Regions from separate parts of the Homo sapiens genome. Here region 2 is linked to region 1. Evidence: fine-mapped expression QTL. A gene starts in region 1. The other region holds a variant in brackets. All regions are shown on one strand. Distances are between the middles of the regions.

Evidence for each region. PIP is the estimated chance that this variant, and not a neighbour inherited with it, causes the effect. A credible set is the group of variants that fine-mapping cannot tell apart.
Region 2: its variant is the best candidate, but not a certain one, in a credible set for the expression of SASS6 in monocytes after LPS (Quach 2016, PIP 0.65).

What each region holds. Positions count from the first base shown.
Region 1 is chr1:100,131,760-100,134,677 of GRCh38, forward strand. SASS6 (SAS-6 centriolar assembly protein) reads right to left here and starts at 1,171. Exons shown (of 17, transcript NM_194292.3): 1 at 991-1,171. The coding sequence starts at 1,055. TRMT13 (tRNA methyltransferase 13) reads left to right here and starts at 1,404. Exons shown (of 11, transcript NM_019083.3): 1 at 1,404-1,556. The coding sequence starts at 1,410. RefSeq lists a silencer at 793-956 and enhancers at 952-1,554, 959-1,078, 1,089-1,618.
Region 2 is chr1:100,049,936-100,052,853 of GRCh38, forward strand. SLC71A1 (solute carrier family 71 member 1) reads left to right here. Exons shown (of 12, transcript NM_033055.3): 2 at 1-69. Among named protein-coding and RNA genes, the nearest start is that of SLC71A1, 13 kb to the left of the region's middle. RefSeq lists enhancers at 262-351, 432-521. The variant G/GT (reference allele first, on the strand shown) is at 1,523.

The DNA.
Region 1 (2,918 bases):
ACTCAATAAGGCAATGTCTTCATTTTTTATGTTACATTTGTACACCACTTAGTTTTCACATACGATTTCACACCTGATCCTCATTACAAACACGTGAATACGCAAAAGATTTCACACCTGATCCTCATTACAAACACGTGAATACGCATGTTATATCAGTTTTACAAATGAGGAAAGAACGTTCAGAGAAAAAAAGAGACAACCATTGAGTGTTAGAACTGAGAAAAAAAAAGTAAGTCTCCTGACCTCTGGTCAAATCTATTTACGCCCCAATAATACCACCTCCTTAATCAAAGTTGCACTTCTCTGTGCGACTGGTCTTTATTTCCTCCAGTGATTGTAAACTCCATGAAGAAAAGGACTGTTTTTCCTGACCACTGTATTCCCAGTGCCCAGTAAGGTGTTTTACAAGGAGGCAATATTTATTGAATGAATTAATGACGTTTCTGCTTTTCTCATTTTTAGTCGGTTAAATGTAATTTACTTTTTTAAAGCAACTGATGTGAAGAGCCAAAGTACGCCACCAAATTGGTAGGTTTTTAAAAGTTGAACTTTACTGCCAACATACTTCAAAAGAGAACGAGGGGGAAAGGCTCGGAGCCAAGGCCTGAGTTCTAGTCCTGACCCTGCCATGAACTGGCTGTGAGCCCTCACGTAAATTTTTTTAACTTCTCTGGGCCAGAGTTCTTATCTGTCAAAAGGGAAGAGTAGGGCTATAATCTTCACGATTCCGTGCACAGGTAGGGTTTTTGACATTAACTTGATGTGAGCCGGCTTCCTAACTCCTCACACCCTTCCTCCAGTCCCCTCTGCAACGGCCGACTTGGTGAGAGAGGTAACCACCGGGCCCTCTGGGTTCCCTATCCGCTTCCTAGGGGGGCCGACTCGACACCTAGGTGCAAGGTGGATCCCACGGGCCAGAACCGCCATCTTTCCCCATTGGCCTGACCCCAACCGCCACCCGCGGGCACTGGATGACGCGGACCTTACCTCTCCTCACAGTCTTTGCATTTCACCTGCAACGGGACTAGTTGGTGGAACAGCACTTGGCTCATGTTGGCTCGCTGCCTCGGCTGGTGTGCAGAAAAGCCCAACAGGCCCGGCCCTCGGGATTAGCCTGAGAGGTCCGGGTCCTGATAAAGTTTGAGTTTGGCGCTCGGCTTCTGCGGAGGAGGCGGGGAGGGAGAAACGAGGGGAAGGCGTAAGAGACTTGGCCCTCGCCAGCCACCATCGGATTCTTCCGGTTCTGCGGAGGATAAAGGGAAGACGGTTGTGGTAGTTCCGGGTATTAACCTGTGTGGCGCGGGGGCTGAGGCAGCCATGTTTGTTAAGGGAAGGAGACCCGAAGGAAGCTTCTAACTTTTCTTCTGGTTGCCGGATGCTGGACACCGGAAGCGAGCCCTAGAATTATGGCGACCTCCGCGACGTCGCCGCACGCGCCTGGTTTTCCAGCTGAGGGTAGATGCGGTTACTATGTGGAAAAGAAGAAACGGTTCTGCAGGATGGTGGTGGCCGCAGGGAAAAGATTTTGTGGTGAACACGCTGGAGCCGCGGAGGTGTGGTATCGCCCTACTCTCTCAAGAGTCGGAAATAAGTATCCTGGTCCTGTCGGTGCTGGAACCCGGCCCCTCCCCTCTTTGACAGCTTTCTGCTTGTGTCCCCTGGATTCTCCAGCTTTCACTTTAATAAACCCAGTTTTGCCCTCCTTGCGGAGCGATTATGAGTTCTAGTGATGAGAAATTTTTTATTTTTCTAAGTAAAGCGCCAGCAGTGACCCATTTATTTTGATCTATTTATCTCGATCTTAACTCATGGTAATGCTAGGTTTTAATTTTTACCCCAAGCTACCGCTCCGTCTTCCTGCTGGAAAGTGGTAGTTTAGAAAAAGTAGTGATTGAAGTCCCAAAGGTTTCACTAGTTGTGTTCTAATTGTTATTTCATGAAAGAGAAGCACTTCTCGTGAATGCGGTTGGAAGAAACTTTCTTTTAAAAATTTAGACTTGAGGCCCGGCGCGGTGGCTCACGCCTGTAATCCCAGCACTTTGGGAGGCCGAGGCGGGCGGATCACTTGAGGTCAGGAGCTCGAGACCAGCCTGGCCAACATGATGAAACCCTCTCTCTACTAAAAATAAGAAAATCAGCCGTGGCGCGAGCTACTAAAATTAAGAAAATCGTGGTGGTGCGAGCCTGTAACCCCAGCTACTCGGGAGGCTGAGGCAGGAGAATCGCTTGAACCCAGGAGGTGGAGGTGGCAATAATCCAAGATCACACCACTGCATTCCAGCCTGGGTGACAGCCAGACTGAATCTCAAAAAAGAAAAAAAAATTTTTTTCGACTTACAGTTTTTAAGAATGCAACTTTGCTGGAATGGGAAGGAAAGATTTTTAAATATATACGAATTGACCTTTTACAATTGAGAACAAAGCATACAATTTTGTTTGATAATTATGCATATAAATGTACTATCAAACACTTTATATTTGTATATATGTATATTACTTTAGGATATATATGAGATGGGAAAATAAAAACCAGAGGAGCAAAATGCTCATAGGAAGAGAGCATGTCCTTATAGTTCCACAGAACTATAAAGAATAAACCAAAGCGATCAGCATCAGATTTCATGCTTCTGAATGTTCAGTATTATTTGCATTATTTTATTTCTTAAGGAATTTATTCTTCTAGACAATATCCAGTGCAGATCAGTCCCCTGACCCCCTTCATCTGCCACTCTCCATCATAGTTGTAGTCTACTTCCTATTTTGTTTTGACTGGCATTTACCAAAAGTGAAGCATACTGAAACAAGGACATTCTTGTTTTGGAATATGGGAGACGTGATTTGTTGTGGGAACTCTGAATTATGCCCATAGTCTATTGACTGGTTTTGAGGGGACTGGCAAACATCCCTTGTTGAAG
Region 2 (2,918 bases), 82 kb before region 1:
TATCATGCAGTTATCGTCATCTTTTTGGAGTTTTTTGCTTGGGGACTATTGACAGCACCCACCTTGGTGGTAAGTAATCTTTTAAATTATTTAACACTGACTCCAAAATCTCTTCTTCTTCAGTTTTGGAGGAAAATGTGGGCCTTTTCCCTTTGCACGGTTAATTCTCCCACCAGTATTGTTCAGTATTCACCAGTATTTTACTGGTTGTCTTTTCCAACTGTTAACTCTCCCTTACCTTTTTTTGGGAGGGGGGTGGCGTGGAGGTGTTTGAATTTGGACTTGTCACTGGGCATGTTCAAGCAGAGGCTCTGTAACTACTCTGAGTAAAATGGAAGAGATTCTTAAACCGACAGGTTTAGAAAAGATGATGTCTGTGACCTGCATGACTCGGCATAATTACTTTGAGGTTCATTTATGCAGCTGTACTTTCCAAAAACAGGTTTCTGTTCATTTGGGCTAAGTACCTAGAAGGGCTATTCTTTAATAGATCTAAGCTGATTTTACCCAAATTCTCCCAGGTTTGAAACTTTAGAAAAGACCTCCCTGCCCGACCAAACAACTCAGAAGATAGCCAGTTTTCTTATATTGGTGTAGATAAGGGGAATGGAAGGAGGGAAGGACTATCTATGGTAAATATCTATACCATCTTGAAAGGAGTAATTATGATAAATGTACAGTTTACCAAATCCTAGAGGAATAGAGTTTTAAAGTAATATACTATGTTTTCATGAAGGTTTTTATAAAAAAGTTATTTAATAGAAAAATTATGTAAGTAGATTGAACTAGCCTAAGAACATTTACAGTACATATTTCTTGATATATTTATTGACAGCTGTGTAATTGTTACTATCTATACATAAAATATTGATGTTTAGCAGTTGCTTATGCCTGTAATCCCAGCATTTTGGGAGGCTGGGTGGGCAGATCGCTTGAGCTCTGGAGTTGAGACCAGCCTGGGCAACATGGTAAAACCTTGTCTCTACAAAAAATGCAAAAATTAGTTGTGCATGGTGGCATATGTTTGTAGTCCCAGCTACTCGGGAGGCTAAGGCAGGAGAATCACTTGAGCCCAGGAGGCAGAGGTTGTAGTGACCCGATATCGTGCCACCACACTCCAGCCTGGGCGACGGGAGTGAAACCTTGTCTCAAAAAAAAAAAACAAAAAAAAAAACAGCCGGGCGCGGTGGCTCACACCTGTAATCCCAGTACTTTGGGAGGCCAAGGCGGGTGGATCACGAGGTCAAGAGATTGAGACCATCCTGACCAACATGGTGAAACCCTGTCTCTACTAAAAATACAAAAATTAGCTGTGCGTGGTGGTACGCACCTGTAATCCCAGCTACTTGGGAGGCTGAGGCAGGAGAATCTCTTGAACCCGGGAAGTGGAGGTTGCAGTGAGCCGAGACTGCACCACTACCCTCCAGCCTGGATACAGGGTGAGACTCTGTCTCAAAAATAAAAAGTCATTTTGAATATATAGAGCATGTTCATGAGTATTGCTATAAAAAAATATCAGAGG[G/GT]TTTTTTTTTTTTTTTTAGTTTACTGATTTCAGATAGAAATCTTTAAAAAATTAATTTACACATTTCCTGGCTTCATAATCCAAGTACAACGATTTGGAACTTCCTCAGATGATGCAAGTTGATTATGACATTCATAACTTCATTGAATTGTAATAACCTGTTTTTGTCAAGGGTTACTGAAGTGCTGTAATAACTTTTTGGGCTCATGACTTTACATTAGCTTTCCTAATGCGCCAGCGTGCTTTTTATAATCTGTCAGTTTAACATACAAATCTGTCTGGTAGACCATCACTCCTACCATTTAAAGTACTTGAGCTTTGTAATAGTAAACAGCCCACGTGTATTTATATTATGATGGATCTAGGCACAGTCCTTTAATGTATTCAAAGTGGACTATGTTAAGCACAGTCCTAATGTATTCCACTTTGAATACATTATCATTTTTCATCCTTACAACCACCTTATCAGTGAGATATTAGCCTCATAATACAGATGAGGAAACCGGGGCTTAGAAAAGTTAAGCAATTTGATTGCTACTCTGACAGTAAGCTGCAGTGTTGGTATTTGCACCCAGGCTTCCTTGACTCCTCCAGTGCTCAGTCTTTTGGGGAATGCAGGTAGTAACTTGTTTGTACCCATGTTTTAGATAGTTGAGGTTGTCAGGCAGCCCAACCACTAGCTAAGTAGGGTGATCAAAATGTGGATGAGCTGTTAGCAAGCTATGAAAAAAAGCATTTTGTGATGTTTCCATAATTTGTTATCAGTATTTCAAGTGTGTATAGCTATTTTTAAAATTTGCTTCTTGTTTAAATTTTTTTAGGTATGTTATCTTTCGTGTTATTTTGGTACATTTTTTTCCTAGTTGGACAAAGGGAGGCTATCTTTTTTAAGAACAAGGAAGGAGTCCCCTTAATTAGAAAGGCTTGTTTATTCATTTTTCATAGACTAATGTGCTTAATATATTCCTTTTTTTTTTTTTTTTTTTTTTGAGACGGAGTCTCGCTCTGTCTGTCCCCAGGCTGGAGTGCAGAGGCACGATCTTGGCTCACTGCATCCCCCACCTCCCAGGTTCAAGTGATTTTCCTGCCTCAGCCTCCCAAGTAGCTGGGACTACAGGCACATGCCACCATGCCCAGCTAATTTTTGTACTTTTAGTAGAGATGGGGTTTCACCATGTTGACCAGAATGGTCTCGATCTCTTAACCTCGTGATCCGCCCGCCTTGGCCTCCCAAAGTGCTGGGATTACAGGTGTGAGCCACTGTGCCTGGCCAATATATTCTTATTATCTTTAATTTTTGTTTTCTTTTTCTTTTTTTTTTTATTTTGTTTGTTTGTGTATTTTGAGATGGAGTCTCACTCTGTTGCCCAGGCTGGAGTGCAGTGGTGCAACCTTG